Regions from separate parts of the Homo sapiens genome. Here region 1 is linked to region 2. Evidence: fine-mapped expression QTL. Tissue or cell type: whole blood. Region 2 holds a variant in brackets; the other region holds the start of a gene. All regions are shown on one strand. Distances are from middle to middle.

Region 1 (2,757 bases), 23 kb after region 2:
AGCTGTGGGTCTGTGACAGCGGCAGACAGCAGTGGTGGACGGTGAGCGAAAGCTCAGCTTGAGCTGTGACACACACGTACCAGAAAAGTGTGCAATTGCAAGATTTAATAGAGTGAAAACAGAGCTTCCATACAAAGGGAGGGGACCCAAAGAGGGTAGCCACCGCTGGCTTGAATGCCTGGGTTTATATCCTGATCATTGTCCCTCCTGTTGTGCTCTCAGGCGATAGATGATTGGCTACTTCTTTACCTCCTGTTTTTCCCTAATTAGCATTTTAGTGAGCTCTCTTTACTACCTGATTGGTCGGGTGTGAGCTAAATTGCAAGCCCCGTGTTTAAAGGTGGACGTGGTCAATTTCCCAGCTAGGCTTAGGGATTCTTAGCCAGCCTAGGAAATCCAACTAGTCCTGTCTCTCAGTACCCCCTCTCAACAGGAAAACCCAAGTGCTATTGGGGAGGTTTGACCACCGCTCTAACTGCTTCCTGCTGAATTGGGGCACAGTAGGGGTTGTGCAGTTGAGATTTCCTCCGTAGGGGTGCCTTGTCTCTCAACTAATTCAGTGGTGGCTACCTCGAAGCCCTTCTGAAGCTAAGAGGGAAAGAGACCAGCTCGCAAAGTCCCCTATGTTATCTACTCCTAAGTGGAAGCTGGGAGCTGTGAAAATGCACATCTAACAACCCTTAACTTACTATACCGACTTCTAAACCACAGTAGAAAATGAAGAAAAGTTCGGCTATGGGCAATAGACTCAACCTTTTGTTCTATGTCTAACCTATAAAATAGAAAAATAATACTGTCATCCCTCATCTCCCACCATACTGAACACGCATTAGGTGCTCAATGAATACTTGTCCATTTTAGTGAAGATTAAGAGGAATGAGACGGAAACTGACACTTGAGAGGCTGGCACACGCCAGAACTGCACCACACTTTGCACTCATAGCTCATTTACTCATCAGCTTGTGGTCAGGTAGGCATTACCGTCCCCATTAGAGAAGTCAACGGAGGCTCAGCAAGGACGGCCAGGGTCCCCCAGAAAGTAGAGGAGGACTTCAGGTTTAACCAAAAGCCTGTACTCTTTACACATGTACCCCATGCCTTCTCCACCAAAGCTCCTGGCACCGTGCTTTGCAGACAGACGACGCTCAACACATTTTGAGCAGAAGCGTGGTTCAGCACCAGGAAGGACACCAACTTTTGCAGAGACGACTCTTGGGATGGAGAAAGACTTCCCAAATCTTCAGGGTGCGGTCAAGACAGGGTAGGCTAGCGCCAGGGGAGCTAGTGGCTAGGCCCCAGGGCAGCTGGGGCCGAGGCCGAGCAAACGGCCAGGGGAGAGGCTCCCAGGAGCCCGATCTGCCGCTGGGCGACGCGAAGCCTGGCGGCTAGAGTCCCGGGCAGCCCGAGCACGGCGGGAAGGCGGCAGCAACAGGATCGGCAGGGATGGCGGGGACGGGGGAGGTCCATGTGCAGGGGCGTGCCGCCGGTGACGCACTTCCGCCCTGCCTGTTCCGGCTTAAAGGGGCCCCAGACAATCCTCGCAATAACAACAAAACCGGCGCGCCAGCGGTGGCGCAACGGCTCTCGTCCCCGCCCTCCTGCTACCTGTAGTCGCCTGGGCCGCCCCCGGCCCAGCCCTGCCTTGCCGCCACCCTGCGCTGTCCAGACTGAGGGGTCAGGCGGAGAGCCGGGCCGCGCCTTCGGTCAGCTTCTCTCCCTTTCACCCGCGCCTCCTCGCGAGACCCGGGGCTGGGCCGTGCCGGTCGCCGCGCAGCAGGAAGGGAGCGGCTGCCACGGAAAACGCCTGGCCGGACGGTGTGGCTGGCGGCCCTGCCTGGGCGCGGAGGGCGGCGGTGGCGGGCCCCGCGGCCTTCTCTCAGGTACCCCAGTGCCCGCTGACCGCCCTGAGCGGCCCAGCTGCTTCCCCGATCCGCACCGCGGGGCCGTGGCGTAGGGGCCTTGTTGCGTTCCAGCTTGGGGGTCGCGGTGGGGCGGGGCAGTGACCCCGGGCCGGCCGTTGTGCCCTCATCCCTCCCACCCTTCCTTCGTATAGCTTCCTTTCTCCTCACGACGGCCTCCACAGTCCGGAGCCCGGCGGAGCCCGGACCTGGCGGGGAGAGCTGCCTCCACGGCCGGGCACCCAGACCCCACCGTCGCAGTCGCCACCACCTCAGTCCATCCTTGGTACCGGCAATGGGCTTCGTATCCTCCAGTGCACTTGTAACTGACTTGGACACGGAATACTAAGAACTCACTTCTGTCCTCATCCCAGTCGCGCCGGCGGTGACCATCTCGGCTCTTTTGGGCTTAACTGCCGCTCCTCTGGACTCTGTCTGACTTTGGGGGCACCATGGACCAAAGTGGGATGGAGATTCCTGTGACCCTCATCATTAAAGCACCGAATCAGAAATACAGTGACCAGACTATTAGCTGCTTCTTGAACTGGACCGTGGGGAAACTAAAAACGCATCTATCTAACGTTTACCCTAGCAAACCAGTAAGTGTGTAAAAGCTGGGGGCAGCTGCTCTGACCAGCAGCTTTTCGTGCCGTGTACCCTCCTTTTTCCTGCTTCTCCCCTCCAGTCTTGAATCAAATAGGTCTCTTTTGGTAGACCGCGAGGTATTTTGAGTTCTGAGGTTGTGTCTCCTGAGTGTTCGAACCATCATTAATATTTTCCTGATGAGGTTCAGTTAATTAGTAAGAGGAAGCAGAAATATCAAGGGACTTAAGAATTGGCAGGCAAAGACCGGGCGCGG
Region 2 (2,757 bases):
TTTTTCCTCTCTCCAGCCAGTCCCCACCACTACTGATAATTAAATCCTTCTTGTCAAAGGACAGGACTGGTTCTGGAACAGGTGATTTCAACATCGTGGTGAGTAGTATTATGGAAGCTGGCAAGCACTGTATAAGATGGATCCTTTTGTGCTCATCACCTGTCACGCAAAAAGGTTTGTTATTTTGTGATGATTTCCATGAAATCTCATGGGCTCTATTGGGGGAAAGTTACAAAGCAAGAATTAACAAATAAAGATAAGAGATGGGCCAAAGTTATCTATTGGACACACCATCGGTGGGCATTCCTTGTCCCCTTGCTGCTCTCCTTCTTATAGGGCAAGAGTGAGAACAACCTAGTGGGTGGGAGGGTAATCAGACTTATTGAGTAACATCAGTGTGGGGTTAGACACCAGCTCTCTGAGTTGCCTGGGAAAGTCAACTTTCAGCACCTGAAGGCACTGGGGTCTGTGGAAGGGAGAAACTGGTCTCATGAGCAGTTTGGACGAACCCCTCCTGTGGGGATAAGGTTGGGGGCCTCAGGTGCCAATTGGCTTGTTATCCAGACAATGCAGGTGAGCCACCTAGGTCAGTTGTTGCCAATCCTGATTGTGGCAGGGTACATTTTATTCATCTTCAGATCCCCAGCTCTTAGCACACAGCCTGGCATATGATAGGTACATGAACAATGTCTGATAATGTAATGATTGAATGTGCTTTTGTGCCAATTAAAAACAAGTAATTTGGGTTTTGCTCATGGAAGGAGAGGAGGGCTAATAATAGACATTGTTGCCTACATTTCTTGAATCCCTGAAAGACGGTATACACATTCTGCCCTTACTTTGGTAAAACCTCTCTGAAGAGTCCACAACTCTATGAGGAGGCTTCCTGGTTCAAGCAATATTTTTATTGAATTTTTACTATTTCTTTGCACCACTGGCCAATAAAGCCAGTGTCTAGGATTTGTTATACTGGCACTGAGACACTCAGTAAAGGAAGGCTCTGCTGGTGACAGCAGCTCTGGAATTTTCCACAACCACTCTAACAATCTTTTTGAATCTTCAGTACTTTTACTGAATTAGATACACAGTACAATGGGACACTAGCCACTGTTTGTAAATTTTTCATAAAAACAATTTGGAAAATGACACCCCTTAAACAATTAAATTAAATTAATTAATTTATTTATT[T/A]ATTTTTGAGATGGAGTTTTGCTCCTGTTGCCCAGGCTGGAGTGCAATGGTGCGATATTGGCTCACTGCAACCTCTACCTCCCGGGTTCAAGCGATTCTCCTGCCTCAGCCTTCCAAGTAGTTGGGATTACAGTCATGCGCCATCATGCCTGGCTAATTTTTTTTGTGTGTGTGTTTAGTAGAGACGGGGTTTCACCATGTTGGCCAAGCTGGTCTCGAACTCCTGACCTCAGGTAATCCGCCCACCTTGGCCTCACAGAGTGCTGGGATTACAGGCATGAGCCACCGCGCCCAGCCAACAGTTTTCTTTAGGGCAGTGTTTCTTATCTTATCACTGCTGAAAAGTCCTTTTAAGACTATTTCTCCACAGACTCCTGTTCTGAAATATTTTGTTTATAAATACATATTTTTGTTAAATAATAATCTTCCCAAGAGGAAATCAAGTAGTCAAGAAATTTTTTTAAACTAAAAGTATCCTTGAGGCTGTATTTTAAGTAAACAAACAATTATCTTTAAGTTTCCTAAAAACTTAAAGTTTCAGGAAAGCTTCAGTTTCAGTAAAAACTGAAAATAACTAGAAGAATTCTCATCCTCTTTATACCCTCGCTTCCCTCCCCACCCTCGCCCCCAGACACTGGTTATTACTTTCCTCAGCTGCTGGGATTCTGGGTATTCTAACTTTGAAACTAGAGTTCCAGAAACACCAGGCAGATAGAATAAAATTAACAAAAGCCTGTGGATTCTCCTAGGTTTTTTGCTATCCATTTACCCTCCTTACTGTTAATGGGTCTTTTACTGTGGCAGTTAGCCCTGCCTCAAAGTCTCCCAAACTGGGGACGATTAGCCCCAGCTTATTGCTAAGATAACATCAAAAGAGGCAATAAGCAAGTTGGCATAGGCAACACCTCTCACCTTAAGGAACTGTCTCCTGAGATGTAGAATAAATCACTTGTCCTCTTTAAATGAATCTCTTCACCATGGTTTTGCTTGATTCCCCCATCCTGAAGTTGCTGCTTTAAGATGGGTGGGAAAATCTCCAGCAAAAGCATAACAAAACAGCAAGTAACAGCAATTTTTTTTTTAACAGAAAAAGGATTATTTTTATTACTTTCATACATTGCCACAGCACTGTTTGGGAAAGATTAGAATCAATAGAAGTTTGGAAATCTGACCTTGGCTGGTGGAAGAATAGAAAGAATCTGGTTCTTCTTAATTTCCCATTCAGGTTCTCAGTGTTCCAGGAAGCAGTTTGCTCAAGTTTCTTTTCTCCATTTAGCTCTCCTGAATGCCCGACTTCAGTGCCTGGGCATTGCTGCCAAGGATCCCGCTGGTGCATTCAGCTGCCATTCAAGGCAACAGCCCTCCACACTGCCTCGCACTTGGAAGTTTGTCTTACAGCATAAAACAGGTGGAAGGACATTCTGCCTTTAGAGTTCTGCTGGCATGTCTTATCACTTCTGTTGTCCAGTGCCAAGAATGACAAAAATCTTTTGTGTATGTTTGGGGGTGGGAAAGACCAGATATAACTGGGAACAGCAGTTAACTTGTTGTTCAGACAAGATTCCCAGG

Evidence for each region. PIP is the estimated chance that this variant, and not a neighbour inherited with it, causes the effect.
Region 1: HERPUD2 starts here. The variant in region 2 is fine-mapped to the expression of HERPUD2 in whole blood (TOPMed, PIP above 0.99).

What each region holds. Positions count from the first base shown.
Region 1 is chr7:35,693,924-35,696,680 of GRCh38, reverse strand. It overlaps HERPUD2 (HERPUD family member 2), which reads left to right and starts at 1,546. Exons shown (of 9, transcript NM_022373.5): 1 at 1,546-1,880; 2 at 2,054-2,497. The coding sequence starts at 2,351. It overlaps HERPUD2-AS1 (HERPUD2 antisense RNA 1), which reads right to left and starts at 1,475. Exons shown (of 1, transcript NR_136255.1): 1 at 1-1,475. RefSeq lists a silencer at 1,668-2,077 and an enhancer at 1,520-2,407.
Region 2 is chr7:35,716,472-35,719,228 of GRCh38, reverse strand. It overlaps LINC03013 (long intergenic non-protein coding RNA 3013), which reads right to left. Exons shown (of 2, transcript NR_108083.1): 1 at 2,361-2,757; 2 at 1-159. Among named protein-coding and RNA genes, the nearest start is that of LINC03013, 1.4 kb to the right of the region's middle. The variant T/A (reference allele first, on the strand shown) is at 1,189.